Homo sapiens: one gene and its partners. The protein of the gene in region 1 interacts with the protein of each later gene in a biochemical or structural test. Each region holds a gene or a part of one and is shown in the gene's direction. Other genes may lie near its edges.

What was found.
Region 2: of the proteins of PTPRJ (region 1) and NSF, one has a biochemical effect on the other in vitro, tested with the Homo sapiens proteins (one large-scale study listed by IntAct).
Region 3: of the proteins of PTPRJ (region 1) and KDR, one has a biochemical effect on the other in vitro, tested with the Homo sapiens proteins (one study listed by IntAct).
Region 4: of the proteins of PTPRJ (region 1) and CTNND1, one has a biochemical effect on the other in vitro, tested with the Homo sapiens proteins (one study listed by BioGRID).
Region 5: of the proteins of PTPRJ (region 1) and GAB1, one has a biochemical effect on the other in vitro, tested with the Homo sapiens proteins (one large-scale study listed by IntAct).
Region 6: of the proteins of PTPRJ (region 1) and INSR, one has a biochemical effect on the other in vitro, tested with the Homo sapiens proteins (one large-scale study listed by IntAct).

What each region holds. Positions count from the first base shown.
Region 1 is NC_000011.10:48,127,059-48,130,558, forward strand, and holds part of PTPRJ (receptor-type tyrosine-protein phosphatase eta isoform 1 precursor), read left to right. Parts: intron 1-721; coding exon 722-985; intron 986-3,400; coding exon 3,401-3,500. UniProt on the Homo sapiens protein: Tyrosine phosphatase which dephosphorylates or contributes to the dephosphorylation of CTNND1, FLT3, PDGFRB, MET, KDR, LYN, SRC, MAPK1, MAPK3, EGFR, TJP1, OCLN, PIK3R1 and PIK3R2. Plays a role in cell adhesion, migration, proliferation and differentiation.
Region 2 is NC_000017.11:46,593,669-46,597,168, forward strand, and holds part of NSF (vesicle-fusing ATPase), read left to right. Parts: intron 1-3,500.
Region 3 is NC_000004.12:55,108,596-55,112,095, reverse strand, and holds part of KDR (vascular endothelial growth factor receptor 2 precursor), read left to right. Parts: intron 1-1,327; coding exon 1,328-1,442; intron 1,443-1,529; coding exon 1,530-1,693; intron 1,694-3,500. UniProt on the Homo sapiens protein: Tyrosine-protein kinase that acts as a cell-surface receptor for VEGFA, VEGFC and VEGFD. Plays an essential role in the regulation of angiogenesis, vascular development, vascular permeability, and embryonic hematopoiesis.
Region 4 is NC_000011.10:57,792,802-57,796,301, forward strand, and holds part of CTNND1 (catenin delta-1), read left to right. Parts: intron 1-1,208; coding exon 1,209-1,280; intron 1,281-2,775; coding exon 2,776-2,928; intron 2,929-3,500. UniProt on the Homo sapiens protein: Key regulator of cell-cell adhesion that associates with and regulates the cell adhesion properties of both C-, E- and N-cadherins, being critical for their surface stability.
Region 5 is NC_000004.12:143,437,876-143,441,375, forward strand, and holds part of GAB1 (GRB2-associated-binding protein 1), read left to right. Parts: intron 1-123; coding exon 124-725; intron 726-1,926; coding exon 1,927-2,012; intron 2,013-2,203; coding exon 2,204-2,507; intron 2,508-3,500. UniProt on the Homo sapiens protein: Adapter protein that plays a role in intracellular signaling cascades triggered by activated receptor-type kinases. Plays a role in FGFR1 signaling. Probably involved in signaling by the epidermal growth factor receptor (EGFR) and the insulin receptor (INSR).
Region 6 is NC_000019.10:7,284,415-7,287,914, reverse strand, and holds part of INSR (insulin receptor isoform Long preproprotein), read left to right. Parts: intron 1-3,500. UniProt on the Homo sapiens protein: Receptor tyrosine kinase which mediates the pleiotropic actions of insulin.

The sequences.
Region 1 (3,500 bases):
GAGGAAGGCACTGACTCCTTTCTCCTGTGGCCCTTCAGGGGCCTGCCCATTGGCTCATAGTGGAACCCGGTCACAGCCCATGTGGCAAGACCCCCCATGATGCCTTGCACAAGGTCAGCCTCCTGGGCCCAGAGCAGGTGAGGGAAGGGCAGTGGATATGTCGGGAGGGTGGAGTGGGCAGGTGGTGAATAACTGGCACTCGGGTTATCTTTTCTTGAGGTTAGGATTGCTCTCCAGTTTTATAGGTGAGGAAGCTGAGCTCAAGTGGTTTTCCTGTGGCCCACCTGGGTGTCATAGCAGAGTGAGCCCTGGAACCCAGGCCTGCCTCGTCCTGACTTCTGTGATCTCGGGCGATCACATAGATCGCAGTGTTCGCTCTTGCATCATGTGTGTTTGACAACTTTTCTGGGTGCCCCTGGCCCTAGGGTAAGACATGCATAGAGTCCAAGTCATCATTTAGGTCAAATCTCTAAAGTCAACTTACAAAAAGGAACAAAGAATAACCCTGCAGGTGCCATTGGCCAGGTTGTTTCTTCACCGCCCAATGATGCCTGACTTTGGCTGGGACCGTCATGCTTTCCTAGCCACGGTTGATGGTGCAGAGGAGGAAGGAACACTCCCCCAGGAGAGTTTGCTGGGCTTGACAGCATGCCCTGATGACCTCTCCCTCCCTCTGCCTTGGCCGTTCTGGTTATTTTGAACTCCTCTTGTGTTCTCACAGATGCTATTCAGGTTTTTGACGTCACCGCTGTGAACATCAGTGCCACAAGCCTGACCCTGATCTGGAAAGTCAGCGATAACGAGTCGTCATCTAACTATACCTACAAGATACATGTGGCGGGGGAGACAGATTCTTCCAATCTCAACGTCAGTGAGCCTCGCGCTGTCATCCCCGGACTCCGCTCCAGCACCTTCTACAACATCACAGTGTGTCCTGTCCTAGGTGACATCGAGGGCACGCCGGGCTTCCTCCAAGTGCACACCCGTGAGTTCATGCCTGGCTCTCACCACCCTTTCCTGCTGTCCTGCTCCGTGCCAGGCCCAGACACAGGATGCATGATGTAGTAATGGTGACTGTTGGCTGACCACACGCCAAGCTTCGTGTGACATGCTTTCCTTGCACTGGCACATTGTATGCTCACAACAGCCCTGTGATGTGGTTGGAAGTAGCCTTATTTTATAGATAGGAAGCCAAGGCTGAGAGAGGTGCTAGACAGGTATCACAGCTGGAAAGTGGCAGAGGTGAGATTAAGCCTCTGGTATTTCTCACCTGGAGCCTGCGCTTGTAACTCTCTTTCCAGTGTGGAGGAGACCTAGAGTGAATTGATACAGGGAGACAAAAATGACCTGGTATTCATATCCCCTTGTGTCTTGGGTGCTGACATTATAACGAATCACTGGCACAGCTGTATCTCATCTTTGTTTGTTTAAATGTCCCTTAAAAATAAGATTTTATGCAGCAAATAAAAAGCTTTAGGTTTCAAAGAAGGTCCGATAATGTAAAATAAAACAGTAATGGTGCACTAGTAGTACAGTGGTATAATATTGATTATATACTATTAAACAATAGTAGTGACACCAGCACTGCATTTTGCACTGTGCCATGAGATTTATAGACACTGTAGTGGCCTCCGAGGTAGGTATTGGGGTCCCCTTTTACAGATGAGGAAATGACACCCTGATGGCTGAACAGTTTGCCCAAAGCCACAGAGCTAGTGAGTAGCAGAGCAGGACTTGAACTCAGGGGTGTGTGGCTCTGGACCCAGGCTTATCCCACAAGAATGTCCATTCCTTCGCAGGAAGCACACCTTAGCATTCTTATAGATGTATTTTGGACTGGATCTTTGGGAAAATGAAATATGCTTGCATTTCTTTACCTTTTACTCTTTTACTATTTATTAGTTAGGATTAGGTTCAGCCACGAATAACACCACCAAAAACAACAACAACAAAACCCAAGTATCCGTGGCTTAAACAAGACAGGGGTTTATTTCTCTCTCCTGTAACAGAAGCCCAGTGCTAGGCAGGATGGGGATGATAGAGGTTATCCAAGGCTCAGTTGTATGAAACAGAAACTGTGAGCTATTTTAACCAAAAGGGATTTATCCTGGGAATTGAGGTTTTGCAGAATCATTGGAAGAGCTGGTGTATTAGTTTGCTAGGGCTACCAGAACAAGTACCAAAGGCTGTGTGGCTTGAACAGAAATAGACTTTCTCATAGTTCTGGAGGCTGAAGGTCAAAGATTAAGGCAACGGCAGGTGTGGTTTCTTCTGAGGCCTCCCTCTTGGCTTATAGATGACTGTCTTCTCCCTCACATGGTTGTCCTTAGTCTGCGTGTGCCTATGCCCTCATCTCCCTTTATAAGGACACCAGTCTTGCTGGATTAGGGCCTACCTTCATGACCTCACATTAACTTAATTACCTCTTTGAAGACCCTGTCTCCAAAGACAGCCACATTCTGAGGTCTTGGGGGTTAGGACATAAACATACACATTTGGGGGTGAGGGAGCACAAGTCAGCTCATAACAGTTGAGGAGCAGGCTTTAGGCCTCGCCCCAAGAAATGACTCCTGGACTAAGTCTGCAGAACTGACCCCCTGGAGAGTCACCACCTTGGTCACAGACAGCAGAGGGAGGAATCAGGAAGTCTCTGCTGTAGTTGCGGGATCCAGGGGTCTATGTTCTGAGCTGTGATCCTGGGATCAGGAAGCTGCAGCCACCGCTGAGGTTTTGGTTCTAGAGCCAGGCAGCGTGAGCTCCAGTCATTGCATCCACACTACAGGTATAAGAAGGAGGAAGGGCAGAAGGTTGTGCCCCACCCTTAAAGGACACTTCCTAGAAGTCACCCAGTACCTCTGCTCATGCTTCGTTGAGCAAAACTTAGTCACATTGCAACATCTAGCTCCATGGGAGCTGGGAAATGTGGTCTTTGTTTCCAACAGGTATGCACACACAGGGCTAAAAATCTGGGTGGGTATGATGAAGGGAAAATGGGGGAATGGATTTTGGGGGTCAAGACTGGTCTCTCTCTGCTGTCCCTCCCTGAACAGAGGCTCTGGGAGGCTAGTAATGCATTCGAGATAAAGCAGCCAGTGTGGCCAAGGTTCTCCTCCAGAGCCTGAGCCCTTGACCACAGGAGCTCACGCCTCCTCTCATTTCCTGTGAATGATTGTGTGCAATGTAAGCACAGAGCTTCTGCACTCTCATGATCAAGTGCTCTCTCCATGGCCAGAAACAGCAGTTTCTGAGGGGCTCATGTTGTAGGTGATGATACAAAGAAGACAGAGAGAGGGATCAGGTGTCCTAAGTGTACATTTCATCTCAGTATTTTCTGAGGTGGGGCATCCCTGTCTCCTGGAGAAGTATATTTTTAATCTAGTTGTTTACTTTCTTTGCATAGCCCCTGTTCCAGTTTCTGACTTCCGAGTGACAGTGGTCAGCACGACGGAGATCGGCTTAGCATGGAGCAGCCATGATGCAGAATCATTTCAGATGCATAT
Region 2 (3,500 bases), on another chromosome or scaffold:
TGTGGTTCTGCTCCTGCTTCTTTCCACTCATTCTCTTACTCTGTGTGCTCAGGTTATATGGTAAACGAGCCTTTCAATTCCTTGAACCTGTAGTTTCTCTTACCACAAGGTCTTTGCGAGTGGTGTTTCCTTTCTTTGTAACGTTCTTCCCCCCAACCATTTACCTCCTACTCAGACATCACTTAGCTACTCAAGGGAGGCCTACTCTGACCCCACATTATAAGTCAGGATCCTTTGTTATATACTCTTGAAGAACTGTATTCCTCTCCTTAGAGATTTATCTTTTTGTTACTTTGAGTGTGTGTTATTATTTGCTTCTACCACTTCACCTCAGTGAAAAGCAGAGAACATACAAGTTATTTAGTCATTATCAACTGCGCTTTGTGTACCTTGTGGGACTTAGGTACTCAATACATTTTTGTTGAAAATGAATCAGTCTCTGAACACTCTGGTGATAGATGGTATATTACCCTAAAGCTTGCCTGTAATGTCATACAGCTATGTTAGGTCTTTGTTATCTGGAGTTCCATGTAACTTTTATACGTAGTTACTATTTCTGCTGTTTCAAGCCATACGGAACTAAACACAATTCTTTTTCCATGTAATAGCTACTCAAGCTACTCATTTACTTGAATACAGGTTACATATCTCCTCAGATTTTCGATTTTGCAAGTTAAACATCCCCCAATTCCTAGCATATTTCATATTCCAAACCCTTCATCATTTAGGCTACCTTCCTCTGGAAGTAACCTAATGTTACTGTTTTGTCAACCTTTCTTCTAAAATGTGCCCAGAGTGGAACACAGTGATCAGAGAAGAATGTACTTAAGCTATTATTGTCTTGAGATGGACACTACCATTATTCATACCAGATAAAATTGTATTAGCGTTTTTTCTATAGTAAATCACATTCTTGGCTCATACTGAGCTTGTAGTCAGTGAAAACTCATGTTCTTTTAAAATCAGCTCCCTAGCTCCATTCTAGGTTTAGAGCAGTTTTATTGAACCTAAATCAAGACCTTATCCTTTTACAATTCATTTTTTTAGGTCAGTGCATGTCTGCTGTTTGTTGAGGTAATCTGGATTCTTAGTTCTTTCATGTTAGGAAACATAATAGCTGTCTCTTCCAGTTTGGTTAGATCTGTAGGTTTAATCATGACTTCTGTTTCTACGTTTGAGTTATTGGTAAAGGATAGAATAAGACAGGGTCAGAAATAACCCTTGGACATGCTGCCAGTGACATGCCTCTAGACTGATACCCATTAATACACTTGGGCACTGTTGCTTAAATACAGATGTGTCTCATTTAATTCCAACAAAACAACCTGCAAAGTAGGTAGTATTATCTTTGTTTTTTTGCAGAGAGAAAGAGAGAGAGATTTAGTAACTTGAGAAGTTCACATAGCCAGCAAGAAGCAGGGTCAAGATTTGAACTCAGATCAGCCTGGTACTGTTACCTAGTTCACCAGCTTAGTTGCAAGAGTGTAGTAAAGACTAGGTTTACCTCACCTAGAACTTTTTGGACATAATAATGTTCAGAAACTATCTTCTACCTTTTGGAAAATCTGAAAAACTTTGGCCCATCTGATTGTCTATCATTTCTTCTGATAGCCTTTATTTTCTAGTAACTACTGAGTGATTTTTAGCAAAAATAGTTCACCTTGTTGCAATACTTTTATTTGTGCATATTTATGGAGTACATGAAAATTTTTTTACATGTGTATAATGTGTAGTGATCAAGTCAGGGTACATGAGTCCAATGTATTAAGTATAGTCATCTACTCAGCTATCAAACATTGAATTTATTCCTCCTATCACTGGATCTTTTTTTTTTTTTTTTGAGACGGAGTCTTGCTCCGTCACCCAGGCTGGAGTGCAGTGGTGTTATCTTGGCCTCACTGCAACCTCTGCCTCCCGGGTTCAAGCGATTCTCCCGCCTCAGCCTCCTGAGTAGCTAGGATTACAGGCATGTGCCACCACGCCCAGCTAATTTTTGTATTTTTAGTAGAGACAGGGTTTTACCACATTGGTCAGGATGGTCTTGGACTCCTGACCTGGTGATCCACCCGCCTTGGCCTCCCAAAGTGCTGAGATTACAAGTATGAGCCACCGCGACTGACCTCATTGGATCTTTTTACCTTTTAACCCACTTCTCTTCAGCCTTTCTCTCCCTTACTCCGCCTTCCCAGTCTCTGTTATCTATTTTTCCACTCCCTGCCTCCTTGTGTTCAAATTTTGTAGCTCCTACATATATGTGAAAGCATGCAATATTTGTCTTTTTGTGCCTGGCTTATTTCACTTAAGAGAATAACCTCCAGTTCCATCCACATTGCTGCAAATGATATGATTTCATTCTTTTTATGGCTGAATAGTATTCCATTGTGTACATGTATGACATCTTCTTTATCCATTCATCTGTAGATGGACACTTAGGTGGTTGATTCCATATTTTTGCTATTGTGATAGTACTGCAATAAACATGCAAGTGCAGCTATCCCTTTGATACATTGATTTCTTTTCCTTTGTGTAGATACCCAGTAGTGGGATTGCTGGATGGAAGGTAATTCTATTTTTAGCTTTGAGAAATCTCCATACAGTGTTCCTTAGTGGTTGTACTAGTTTACATTCCCACCGACAGTGTATGTGAGAGTTCCCTTTTCTCTGCATCCTTACTAACATCTGTTACTTTTTGTCTTTTTAATAATAGCCATTCTGACTGGGGTAAGATGATATCTCATTGTGGTTTTGATGTGCATTTCTCTGATAGTGGTGTGGAACATTTTTCCATGTCTTCTTTTGGCCATTGTATGTCTTCTTTTTTAATGGGATTATTTGTTATTTTCCTTTTGAGTTGTTCGAGTTCCTTGTATGTTCTGGATATCAGTCCTCTGCTTGATGAATACTTTGCAAATATTTTCTCCCATTCAACAGGTTGTCTCTTCATTCTGTTGATTATTCTTTTGCTGTGCAGAAGCTTTTTAGTTTGCTTAAGTCCCATTTGTTTAGTTTTCTTTATGTTACCTGGGCTTTTGATGTCTTAATCATAAATTCTTTGCTTACACCAATGTCCAGGAGTGTTTTCCCTAGACTTTCTTGTAGTATTTTTATAGTTTTGGGTCTTAAAATCTTCAATCCATTTTGAGTTGATTTTTGTATATGGTGAGAGATAGGGGTCTAGTTTCACACTTCTGCATGAAGTTATGCAATTTTCCCAGCATCATTTATTGAAGACAGTGTCCTTTCCTTAGTGTGAGTTCTTGTCAGTGTTGTTGAAGATCATTTGTCTATAATTATGTGGTTTTATTTCTGGATTCTCTATTCTGTTCCATTGGTCTACATGTCTATTTTTATACCAATACCATGCTGTTTTGGTTACTATAGCTTTATAATATATTTTGAAGTCAGATAATGTGATGTCTGCAGCTTTGTTCTTTTTGCCCAGGTTTGGTTTGGTTGTTTGGGCTTTTTTCTTTTTCCTTTTTTGGTCCCATATGAATCAC
Region 3 (3,500 bases), on another chromosome or scaffold:
TTGTTTATTCTCTTTCATTTACATAAATGTCTGAGTTTACATGGTAATTTGTGTGGCATCCTACTTATAAGCCTTGGAAAGGATTTTGGAGTTTATATTATGAGAATGCATCAATACAGTGAAATTTTAAAAATACCTTAGATAATGCTATTTATTAGAGTTGTAATCATAAAAGTGGCAACAACTATAACAAGTATGATTTAGTGAGCACTTACTTTATTAGCTCATCTCATCTTTGAAGCTGAGATTGGAACTCAAGTTCCTGACTACAAAGCTATGCTCTTGACCTCTAGGTCACGTGGCATCCCTAGCAAGAACTTGAAAATTTCTTCTGAATGAACAAAATAGAAATCACTAAGTGTCCTAAATTTATTTAAATTATTTCACTTGCCAAGATGCACTTGTCAAAATACACAGAGAGAGATGTGCTCTGGCTTATGTTTTTATAGAATTACTTTTGTTTTCCAGAATACTTCAGGGAAATAGGGGCAGAAATAAGGAGGTCAGTTGGGAGGCTAATTGCAGTTATCCAAGTGAGAGTTGAGGGGTGGCTTAGACAAGGGTAGTTGAGGTGGAGGTAGTGAGAGGTGATCTGCTTCTGGATATATTTTGAAGGTAGAGTCAACAGGGTCCGCTGATCAATTCATTGGTTGTGGAGTATAAGAGAAAAAGAGTGGAAGATGACTCGAGCGTTAGCATGAGCAACTGAGTAAATGATGGTGTTATTTACTGAGATGGCAAAGATCGAGAAGGCAGTGAGATTTAGGGAAACAGTGTTAGATATGTTTATCTGGAGATGCCTGTTAAACATCCAAGTGGAGATATTTAACATATCAACCCGGAACCCAGAGGAGTCAGGGCAGAAGATAACACATTTAGGAGGTACGTGAATGATACTTTAAACCTGAGGCTAGAGGAAGGTGTAAATAAAGAGGAGGTCTGAGGACTGAGTCCTGGGGCCTCATGGTGGAAGAGGTGTGTGGAGGCTGTCATGGGAGCAGAGGAGAAGGAGCACCCAAGCATCCCTGGGGGACTTAGAGAAAGCTGCACAGAGGAGCAAGTGTTTGAGTTGAGACTTGAGCAATCACTAGGCTTGTGGGAGTGCACTAGCGGGGAGAGAAAAGCAAATGCAAACACAGGAGGTGTGGGAGAAACACGGGAGGTGTGGGAGAAGCTGAAAAGTGACCCACTGAAAGATAGTACAGGAAATCTTGGAACTGCAGCTACTCAGACCCTCAAGGTCTTTGACGTTTCACTTGAAATGAAAAACTAAATCAAATGACCATTTACAGTAAGTTGACCTTTTTTTTTTTTTATTTTCTTCCAGAAAAACCTTTTGTTGCTTTTGGAAGTGGCATGGAATCTCTGGTGGAAGCCACGGTGGGGGAGCGTGTCAGAATCCCTGCGAAGTACCTTGGTTACCCACCCCCAGAAATAAAATGGTAACTACTGGAAATAAATGCAAAGCATCATTTCGTGTGAGAGCAAATCCTTTGACTATACTAATTCCTGAGAATTTTTTTTCATAGGTATAAAAATGGAATACCCCTTGAGTCCAATCACACAATTAAAGCGGGGCATGTACTGACGATTATGGAAGTGAGTGAAAGAGACACAGGAAATTACACTGTCATCCTTACCAATCCCATTTCAAAGGAGAAGCAGAGCCATGTGGTCTCTCTGGTTGTGTATGGTGAGTCCATTCAATTTTCCTCTCTGCCCAAGATTTATTATGATACATTGTCTTCCAAATCAGCCAAACCACCGTTCCTCTGCCTCCTGCTGCTTCACTCATATCATGGCTGGGCCTGCGTACAAAAGTCATCTGGCGTGGTGAAGCTGAAGTGAAACGTAGGACCATGTGCTCTGGCCATGTTTGTTTAAGAGGCCGTGTAAATGAGCTTTGTGGTGGACAAATGCAAGATTAAAGTAGTGATACCCTCGATAGCTAAATGTTGTGAAATAAGAATGCCCACAGGGACAGTTGTCAAGCTAAGTTATACTACCATGTTCCCCTCTCATGGAATTGCCCACCTGGTACACAGATGTGTAAGACCCTTCTCCTTAGATTTTGTGCAAAGCTTCTAGTTTGATGTTGTAGTTGATGTATCAGAGATGTGCAGGCACGTTCCAACTCTGAAGGCTTTTGAAGTTGACACTGTTGGCTTGGTTGGGAGCTTTTCTTTTTTCCTTTTTGACAGGAGTTCAGGATCTGATTTTGAGTCTGTAAAGGAAAGATAGTAAGTTTTTGATGTAAAGATAATTTGAACTTTGTTTTCTGAAACTGAAAGGTACAAATAAGTGTTTGGAATGGAGTGGGGAGAAGGGTGCCATGGTCAAGTGAGTGTGAGAGGTGCTAAGGTGATGTGTAGATGTGTAACAGGTTTCTTTATTGCAGGACTTCGCAGAACCTTTTATATGCTAATGTATATTGGTATTCTCCAGGAGGAGAGACATAGAGTATTCAAGGTTTAACAAACCTATTTGACCAGAGCACCTTTTTTCCCCTGAGCAAATTCATTAATCTCTCACTCCAAACAGTTTGAGAAATGCTTCTCTGTTGTAATTCTTTGTTCCCCCTTCTGGTACGGCATATTAAAACTTCAGGATATTTTCCCATGACATTAAGGTGCTTCCCTACGTGTCCTGATACTCTTCTGTAGGCCGCTGAACTTGGCTTTATTATTTTTTTTCAGGGAATATTTTAAAGATAGGCTGGGTGCCGTGGTTTGCATCTGTAATCCCAGCACTTTGGGAGGCCGAGGCGGATGGATCACCTGAGGTCAGGAGTTCGAGACCAGCCTGGCCAACATGATGAAAACCCGTCTCTACTAAAAATATAAAAATTAGCCAGGCATGGTGGTGGGCACCTGTAATCCCAGCTACTTGGGAGGCTGAGGCAGGAGAATCACTTGAACCCAGGAGGTGGAGGTTGCAGATAGCCGAGATCGCACCATTGTACTCCAGCCTGGTGACAAGAGCAAAACTCCGTCTCAAAAAAAAAGTTAACAGGTTCCAAAAAGGTTGTTTAGAAGCAGCATAGGTGTAGGGGACTGGGGAGAGGAGAAACTGGAAAGTGTATAAGTAGGATGGGAGGAGGAAATGAACAGGAAATAAAAACAAAACACGGACAGCAAATAGCCCATTTCATCAGTTCATGAAGCCACTAAATATTTTATTCACTTTAGCAAATTCTCTGCTATATGAAATAAACATAAAAAAGAAGTCAAGTCTTCAAAGCATAATCTGAGGCTTTAGGTTGACAGTAATAAGGAAATAGTTTTGACTTTGGAGTCAAAAAAGAAAGAAAGGAAAAAGGGAGAGAAGAAAGAAGGAAGTGAGAGAAGGGAGAAGGAAGAAAGGGGAAGAGGGAAAGGGAGTGGAGAGGGAGGGAGGGAGGAAGAGGGAGAGAGAATGAAAAACTCAGATGATGGTGGCAGGAATGCATTCTCTAAAGATTTACACCTTCCTTTAACATGAGGTGGTTTACGTGTTTGGGT
Region 4 (3,500 bases), 9.7 Mb from region 1:
TACGCGTGAGCTACTGCACCCGGCTGAGTGATTTTTTTTTTTTTTTTTTTAAGATAGAGAAAGTCCCTCATACTGAGGAGCCTTGCAGTTGAGAGAGAACAGAATTCCAGTTGGAGGATCAAGGAATTTGAGGGAGGCAGCATGCTTGCAGTGTTCCTAGGATTTTTACAGGAACTACAATAGAAAGTTAGGGATGAAATTATATTGAAAGGAGAAAGCTGGACTGCTCAGGTTTGGAGGTCATGGGGAATTCCAGGATTCAGTATGTGGTTGCTCTCTTATTTTTAACTTCTGCTTAGCAGTAAAACCACACCCTTCCTTCTTCCTGAAAGTAATGTTTAACTTCCTCTCCCTGCAGCATTACACTCTATGTAATGGGAGTGGGGTGGAGGAAGAGTCTCCCAAGGTGGTTGGATCTCACTATTCTACTGGAAGAGGAGCAGGCAAATATATTTTTATGTGGTATAATGTCATTAGATTATTTCCTGCTGCTTAAGACAGAGCAACTTCTGGATGACATTTTGGAATGTATTCTGTGGCTCTAATAATTGTTGGTAAAGATATTGAGCCTTCTGTTTTCTTGAGGGGAGTTGGGGTGCTTGTTTTTGTACTTGGAAAGGGAGACTCGTATCTCTTGCTTTTTTCTTTAATTAAATTTCTGTTTTTTACATTAGGACATGATAGCCATCTTGCTTCTTTCTTTAAAAAGCTGCCTGGAATGGGAGTTTCCAGTGGTAGTACTGCATGAAGATTCATGAGACTATAAAGCTCTTTGGAAACCCCCCAACTTAGCCCTTCCAACTTTCCTTACATTTTTATGGCTTTCCAAAAAGGTTGCATGTAAGGGAAATTATCTAGGTCTGTGCTGTTTATTCAGCAAATAGTTTTTGAGCACCTGTTATGTGCCAGGCACTGTTCAAGGCACTAGACTAAACTAAACTTATCCCAAAAAACCCTCTGCCCTCGTGGAGTTTACGTTCTTATGTTCCAGAGACCCTGTCTGCCAGAGTTCCAGGCCTGATTTTCAATTTTGAGGAAAGTGCTAAGACTAAAGAGTGAATGGTTCTTTTATGAGTACTGACACAAGGACTCCAGGCCACACATATCTTCTTGAAAGCCCTTTTCCTGTTTGAAAAAAAGATCGTTTGTATTTGATAGAGCAAAAGAAGGCCACAAAATGAATTGTCTTCTTGTGGGCTGTGTTTCAGAACGGCCGGTTTGTGGGCGATGCTGACCTTGAAAGACAGAAATTTTCAGATTTGAAACTCAACGGACCCCAGGTAATTCTTTGGCTCAAGACCTGGGTTGCTTCATTCATATTTTCTTATTTCCCCAGCCTATAAGAGCATATTTGTGTCTTGTAAGGTGCCTGGCACATTGTACATACTCGTCAATTAGTTTCTTTTATTTACGAAAACAAAGAAGTGGAGCTCCAAAGTATATATGCAGTTTTGTTTTGGAATGAATTTTAATGACCATTGATCTTTATGACTATTCCTCCTCCCCACTGCCACCCCATTTGATCCCTAAGTACTGCGTTTCTTTTCTAGAGACAGTAGGCTTCTACTTTGCAGCAAAAAACCCTACCTAAAATCTGGCTGGTCTTGAGCCTTTTAGACGGTATCTGAAGAGTAACATAAAGCCAGTCAAAAGATGGCTCTTACTGGGATTTTCAGGTTTGTCTTAAAAGTTCTTTATTTTTGGCCAGGCATGGTGGCTCATGCCTGTAATCCCAGCACTTTGGGAGGCTGAGGTGGGCAGATCACCTCAGGTCGGGAGTTGGAGACCAGCCTGACCAACATGGAGAAACCCCGTCTCTACTGAAAATACAAAATTAGTCAGGCGTGGTGGCACATGCCTGTAATCCCAGCTACTCGGGAGGCTGAGGCAGGAGAATTGCTTGAAACCAGGTGGCGGAGATTGTGGTGAGCTGAGATCATGCCATTGTACTCCAGCCTGGGCAACAAGAGCAAAACTCTGTCTCAAAAAAAAAAAAAAAGTTCTTTATTTTAGACTGGGCACGGTGTCTCATGCCTGTAATCCAACACTTTGGGAGGCCAAGGCAGAGCAAAACTCCGTCTCAAAAAAAAAAAAAAAACAAAGTTCTTTATTTTGGCCAGGCGTGGTTTGCTCATTCCTGTAATTCCAGCACTTTGGGAGGCTGAGGCTGGAGGATTGCTTGAGCCCAGGAGTTCAAGACCAGCCTGGGCAACATAGACCCTGTCTCTACAAAAAAAATAAAATTAGCCAGGCATGGTGGCGTGAGCCTGTAGTTCTAGCTACTCAGGAGGCTGAAATGGCAAGATTGCTTGAGCCTGGGAGGTTGGGGCTCCAGTGAGCTATGATCATGCCACTGCACTCTAGCTTGGGTGATAGAGTGAGACCCTATCTCAAGTAAATAAATACAAGTTATTTATTTATTGGGTGAGCTGCTCTTTTGAGGGATCACTCAGATATAGATGAAACTGCATTTAACACAGTTCATGTTCACTTAGATGACCACAGCTGGGAAGTTAAATCTACTGTCTGTCACTTGGATGTTGATGTGGCTATAGTTAGTTCATGTTTGTTAAATGACTACAACTGGGAAATTATGTCTACTGTCCTTTTGTACAAGTTCAAAAGATGACAGCCACCCATCTAAAAATCCTGAGGCCTATAGAAGATGCATGAGGAGTCCCTGTCTCCAGGTTTACCACTTATGCTTCTTATTAGGATGGCTTGTTATACATAGCACTTAATAGTAGTTTCTTCTCTTTTCTCTTTTGCATATAGGATCACAGTCACCTTCTATATAGCACCATCCCCAGGATGCAGGAGCCGGGGCAGATTGTGGAGACCTACACGGAGGAGGATCCTGAGGGAGCCATGTCTGTAGTCTCTGTGGAGACCTCAGATGATGGGACCACTCGGCGCACAGAGACCACGGTAAACTAAGACGTGTGTAAGATCTGGAAGTGATAAGAGGTCTTTTCTTCTCTATTAGGGGAGGGGTTAAGCACTTAATTAAGATGGAGGACTGATATGCCATTATTGATCTGATTGCATGAAGTGATCTCTGGCCAGATAGAAAGGATGAAGAGATGGGAAAATCTTATGGGATAGGGAAGACAGAAGGTATATCAGGGTCTATAGTAGCTTCCCTTATAAGCATAGTTACTGTCAGGGCAATTTTCCTGCTTGGGGACTTCCTATAGGATGGAAAGAAAGATAGATGGTAGGCTTTAAGGCATTCCTAGGTAAAGTGACCTAGGGATATAAAGATTTGTTTCTTTTGGAGTGGTATAGAATTTAATTGTTCATGGCTGGGCGCGGTGGGTCACGCTTGTAATCCCAGCCCTGTGGGAGGCTGAGGTGGGCGGATCACGAGGTCAGGAGTTTGAGACCAGTCTGGGCAACATAGTGAAACCCCGTCTCTACTAAAAATACAAAAAATTAGCCAGGTGTGGTGGTGTGTGCCTGTAATACCAGCTACTCGGGAGGCTGAGGCAGGAGAATTG
Region 5 (3,500 bases), on another chromosome or scaffold:
GATCACACAAAAAATCTAATGAGAAAAGCCCTATCTTTTGATTGCTTAGCGATAAACATGTTTATAAAAAATGTATTCTTAGTCTCCACCTTGTTTATTCTGTCATTAACAATTTTTATTTAGAACGCATGCTGATTCTGCAAAATCCACCTCTTCTGAAACAGACTGCAATGATAACGTCCCTTCTCATAAAAATCCTGCTTCCTCCCAGAGCAAACATGGAATGAATGGCTTTTTTCAGCAGCAAATGATATACGACTCTCCACCTTCACGTGCCCCATCTGCTTCAGTTGACTCCAGCCTTTATAACCTGCCCAGGAGTTATTCCCATGATGTTTTACCAAAGGTGTCTCCATCAAGTACTGAAGCAGATGGAGAACTCTATGTTTTTAATACCCCATCTGGGACATCGAGTGTAGAGACTCAAATGAGGCATGTATCTATTAGTTATGACATTCCTCCAACACCTGGTAATACTTATCAGATTCCACGAACATTTCCAGAAGGAACCTTGGGACAGACATCAAAGCTAGACACTATTCCAGATATTCCTCCACCTCGGCCACCGAAACCACATCCAGCTCATGACCGATCTCCTGTGGAAACGTGTAGTATCCCACGCACCGCCTCAGACACTGACAGTAGTTACTGTATCCCTACAGCAGGGATGTCGCCTTCACGTAGTAATACCATTTCCACTGTGGATTTAAACAAATTGCGAAAAGGTCAGCTCTAGTTGACTTCTTCTCTATTAGAGGTTAATGATAGAAAATCGATTTTTCTGAATATTTGTTCTTTTAAGCGTAGTTAAATATACTATGCTACAAAATACAGTCCATTTTTTTCCAGCTCTACAGCTACCTGGAAGGGTATATTGCATTCATGCTCTGCTGGAAGGGAAAAAGAGTTGGAGTTTCTCACCCCTGAAGAAGTATGGCCTTAGTAATGCCTTCCTGCCTCAGGAAGTGTGCCCTTCTCTCTCCCACTTTCTATAATCCTGGGTGGATAGGCCCTCTGTTGGGACAGAAGGGCAGGAAATGGACCAGCCACAAAGCCTCTCCGAGTCATACCCTTTCCTGTATTTGTGTGCCATTATGGCCGCTTCTAAGTCACATCTGTTGGGCTCTATTTCCTTCCTTCCTATATAAGCAGTTTTTATGTTGTGTCTAACAGGTGATATTCTGTTCCAGTCAAGCCATTATGCTGTTTGATTTTTACTTGTGTTTAAAGAGCTGAATCTTCTTTCCCCTTATCACTACCCACTTCACTCATTGCTAGTGAGTATACTTTCCTATACTGTCTCCTAGAGTCTGTATCCAAAAGTTACAGACCTTGAGAGGAGAAGAAAAAAATGAGTCTGGGTGATTCTCTGAGATTCTCAAAGTCCTACAAATAGAAAGCTAAAGTTTTTAATGCACATATCCTAAACAGTATGTGCTAAAATTTCTGTATTTTGTGGTAGAGTTTTCCTCAGCTATCTCCAAGATTTTAATGTATCTGTGATTATTACTTAAATCAGTACTTATTTCACCATTCAATAACAGTATCTAACTCCTTTCTTGAAGTGACTGTATAACCTGGTTATCAGTTAGTGAGATGTAAGTTATGCCCAAGGTGGTGCAAACGATGAGAAAATAGAGGTGTTTCTCTTCATCTTTAGATAACCTATCTTATCCCAGACTTAGACATTCACTCACACTCAAAATTAGATATTGGTATTGGTTAGCATATGAGTGAGTGTCTGCATTTTCTAGTGGTTTAATATGCCAATTCAAGACACAGTTCTATGAGCATCCTTTTTAAAATTCTGTGTGTGTGCATGTGTGTATGCATATGTATAATGAGAGAAAGATAATAGGTCATCCCAATGACCCTGAGAGCTGGCAAAGATGGGAATAAATGTTGATAGTTTGTTCTTTATTTTAGATGCTAGTTCTCAAGACTGCTATGATATTCCACGAGCATTTCCAAGTGATAGATCTAGTTCACTTGAAGGCTTCCATAACCACTTTGTAAGTATAATTGACCTTGGCATCATCAAGTGTATTTCATTGTCTAAATCTTCATAATTAGTGCCATGAGACTAAGTGATATCATGAAATAAAAGTACGCTGAGATCCATATGAATGAGTGTGACTTACAATTGTGTTTTCATGTGTGACAAGAGTTTTTGTTTATTAAAAGAAATATATATGTGTTTTAGAAAGTCAAAAATGTGTTGACAGTGGGAAGTGTTTCAAGTGAAGAACTGGATGAAAATTACGTCCCAATGAATCCCAATTCACCACCACGACAACATTCCAGCAGTTTTACAGAACCAATTCAGGAAGCAAATTATGTGCCAATGACTCCAGGAACATTTGATTTTTCCTCATTTGGAATGCAAGTTCCTCCTCCTGCTCATATGGGCTTCAGGTCCAGCCCAAAAACCCCTCCCAGAAGGCCAGTTCCTGTTGCAGACTGTGAACCACCCCCCGTGGATAGGAACCTCAAGCCAGACAGAAAAGGTAAGGAGAGCATGGCAAAGTAAAAGGCTTGGGGAGTGCCAAGTTAGATCTATCTTTAACTGCCATTAAATCCAAAATAGAATTTGGACTAGAAATTCTGAAATATTTCATAGTTCCATAGCCATCAAGTTATTTAAGCAAAGCAGTACTGCCATTTATAAATTAACAATTATGATATCACATGTTGATGTGAGGTGATATTTATAAGTCTCCTATCTCTAGAGCAGAGGTTACAAGCTGAAATACTCACGGGGTGAGCGGACAACTGGGGAGAATTAGAAGAAACTGGACTGCCGTAGCCCCATCTAATGGGAGTAACTAACCTACACTGCTACAATCCTTTGTTGACTTGTGAAATGATGCACCCATGCAGGCAAATCTTCTGGTATATCAGGAAAAGCCAGAGATTTCAGATTTTATATGTATTATCTCTCAATTTTTAAAGTTCTATCAACTAATTTAATTATTAAGAAAACATTGCAGGCCAACCCAAACACTTCTGCAAGCTAGATAATGGCCTTCAGCTGCTATTTAGTAACCTCTTCTCCAGAGTATATAATATCAAATCAGACTTAAGATTATTAATGTATTTGACATAATTATTTAAGAACAGTGAGACTGTATAATCTTTCCATTCTGTTCATATAACAACTTCTTAAAAATTACTTTGCCTTTGCTGGGGTAATACATGCTTCTAGTCTGTCATTTTTTTTTCCATGCTGGCCTTCATAAGTAACATTAAGTTCTAAGGTAACATAGTTTGTTAAGAAGTCTGTAAAAGAAACTGTTCAGCCAAATTGGGTAATGCCTACCCAGGTTTTTTAAATTGGGGTTTAAGTTGTTAAAACACAGACAATTTGATTTGTTGCACCATGCTGTTAGTGTGGCTTAATCTTGACAACCAAGTAAATTAGCATAAATGTAAATGTGATGAATGATACAATATCTGGCTTACATTAGGGTGTTTCAGCACATTTGAAAAGTCTCATGTGC
Region 6 (3,500 bases), on another chromosome or scaffold:
CGGCAGGTTGAGTAGTTAAAACAGGAATTCCATGGCCAAAATATTTACACTTTGGCCCTTTACAGAACAGCGTTTGCTGACCTCTGATCTGGAACAGACGCCTTGAGGTTTCATTCATGATAGCATGCCTAATAGCTTGTGCAGTCCCTGGTACAACTCGAATGAAGTGAGTGAAATGAAACGCTATGTCTTTCTCTTTACACCGCAAGAGATGTTAAAGAAACGTGTGTCATTTGCTGCACTGAATATACGGATTCCAAGGATGAGAAAAATCACCGTGATGTTGCCTACTTAGCCATGTGTATTTATTTAAACAGCTATATTGGCATTGAATGAGGATTTCATGCTCTCAACCCTGTATCTAGAACCCAAAATATAACTGGTGTATATAATGAGATTTTTTTTTTTTCTCTCAGGCCTCTCTTGTGTTAATTTCTGTTAAGAATACTTCTGGGCCAGGTGTGGTGGCTCACGCCTGTAATCCCAAGCACTTTGGGAGGCCGAGGTGGGTGGATCACTTGAGGTCAGGAGTTCGAGACCAGCCTGACCAACATGGTGAAACCCCATCTTTACTGAAAAAATACAAAATTAGCCAGGCGTGGTGGCGCATGCCTGTAATCCCAGCTAGTTGGGAGGCTGAGGCAGGAGAATCGCTTGAACCTGGGAGGTGGAGGTTGCAGTGAGCCGAGATTGCGCCACTGCACTCTAGCCTGGGTGACAGAGCGAAACTCCATCTCAAAAAAAAAAAAAAAAAAGAATATTTTTGGCCAGGTGCAGTGGCTCATGCCTGCAATCCCAGCACTCTGGGAGGCTGAGGTGGGAGGATTACATGTGTCCAGGAGTTTCAGATCAGCCTGGACAACACAGCAAGACCCTGTCTCCACTAACAATAAAACAAAAATTAGCTGGGCATGGTGGCATGTGTCTGTAGTCCCAGCTACTTGGGAGGCTGAGATGGGAGGACCTCTTGAGGCTGGAAGGGCAAGGCTGCAGTGAGCTGTGATTGTACCACTGCACTCCAGCCTGGGCAACAGTGAGATCCTCTCTCTGTCTCAAACAAAAAAAGAATACTTCTTGGGGTGGCCTGGTTGATATTTTGCAGCTGCATGGTATTTACAGTTTTTAATTAAATAGTGACGGGTAATGCATTCTCATTGCAAAAAGAAAAATTACAAAAGTGTAGAAAGGAAAAAAAAAACACAGAAGTCCTTCTGCAAAATCTTGTGGTGGGGTGCAGTGGCTCACACCTGTAATCCCTGGACTTTTTAGGAAGCTGAGGTGGGAGGAACACTTGAAGCCAGCAGTTTGAGACCAGCCTGGGCAACATAATGAGACATTATCTCTAGAAAAAGTTTAAAAATTAGCTGAGCATGGTGGTGTGTACCGGTAGTCCCAGCTACTCAGGAGGCTGAGGTGGGAGGATCGCTTGAGCCCAGAAGGTTGAGGCTACAGTAAGCCATATTCATGCCACTGCACTCCAACCTGGGTGATAGAGCCCGACCCTGTCTCAAAAAGAAAAGAAATAATAAAAAAAAATCTTGTCCCCCTGTCCCCAAAAGCATTCCATTCATGTCCAGGGAGGTAACTGTGCCATTGGTTTATGTATCTTTTTGATGTTTAGTAATTTTTTAGGCTAGGTGTCATGGGGCCACTCCTGTAATCCCAGCACTTTGGGAGGCCGAAGCAGGTGGATCTCTTGAGCCCAGGAGTTCAAGACCAGCCTGGGTAACATAGCAAGACCCCGTCTCTACAAAACCCTACAAAAAAATTATCCAGATACAGTGGTGAGCACCTGTGGTCCCAGCTACTAGGGAGGCTGAGGTGGGAGGATCACCTGAGCCTGGGAAGTCGAGGCGCCAGTGAGCTGTGATTGCACCACTGCATCCAGCCTGGGTGACATAGTGAGACTGTGTAACAACAACAACAACAAAATATTTTAAACATTATCATACAGTAAAATTGGCTTTTTAAAGGTGTACCATTTTATGATTTTTAAGCCATGTGTAGAGTTGTATGGCTATTGCCACAATTAGGATAGAGAACAGTCTCGTTGTTGTCCAAACTCCCTCAATTCACCCCTTTATCACTAAACCACCTCCACCCCTAACCACAGATCTGTTCTCCATCCCTATAGTTTTCTCTAGACTTTAAAAGATTTTATCTTATAATTGGATTAATATTCCTAAAGTTGAAATTTTAAATTTGAGTCTGGTTGATCCTCATCATTCCCAGATCCCATATTTTCTTTTTAAAATTTAAAATTTAAATTTTTATTTTGAGAGGCAGGTTCTTGCTCTGATACCCAGGCTGGAGTGCAGTGGTGTGGTCCTAATTCCCTGCAGCCTCCAACTCTTGAGCATCAACGATCCTCCTGCCTCAGCCTCCTGAGTAGCTGGGACTACAGGCACACACCACCATGCTCAGCTAGTTTTTATTGTTATTTATTTATTTATTTATTTTTGAGACGGAGTCTCACTAACTCTGTTGCCCAGGCCAGACTGCAGTGGTGTGATCTGGGTTCACTGCAACCTCTGCTTCCTGGGCTCAAGCAACTCTCCTGCCTCAGCCTTTCTAGTAGCTGGGGTTACAGGCACGCCACCATGCCCGGCTAGTTTTTTTTATTTTTAGTAGAGATGGGGTTTTACCATGTTGGTCAGGCTGGTCTCAAACTCCTGGCTTCAAGTGATCCGCCCACTTCAGCCTCCCAAAGTGCTGGGATTACAGGCGCGAGCCACTGTGCCCGGCCTAATTTTTAACTTTTCAGCAGGGATAAGGGCTCGCTATGTTGCCCAGGCTGGTCTCGAACTCCTGGCCTCAAGTGATCCTCCCATCTTGACTTCCTAAAGTACTGGGATTACAGGCATGAGCCACTGCACCTGGCCCCAGACCCTGTATTTTTGAATTCACCTACTCACTCAAATGTATTTGTAACCCTCAAACCAGCATGCTCAGTGCCTTTCTGGTCATTTTAGGACACTCATAAGTACGAGTCTCAAATGTGAGGTCAAGTAAGAGGGCATTCCACCTTCTTGCTTCAGCCCTTATGCGTCAGATTCATACAATCTGCACACTGAGGATTAAAACTAGTCCTTTTTGAGCAGGCGCAGTGGCTCATGCCCAGCGCTTTGGGAGTCCGAGGCGAGTGGATCACGAGGTCAGGAGATCGAGACCATCCTGGCTAACATGGTGAAACCCTGTCTCTACTAAAAATACAAAAAATTAGCCAGGTGTGGTGGCGGGCGCCTGTAGTCCGAGCTACTCCGGAGGCTGAGGCAGGAGAATCACTTGGACCCAGGAGGTGGAGGTTGCAGTGAGCCGAGATTGTGCCTCTGCACTCCAGCCTGGGTGACAGGGTGAGACTCAAAACAAAAAACAACAACAAAAAAACCTGAGTCCTTTTTGTGGTTATTTGGTGCCACATTTTTAGCATTTTTGTGCTTTCAGTTGGTGATGGGGCTGTTTCAAATGCCCCCCAGGGTGCTGAAGCCCTGCTCTCTACT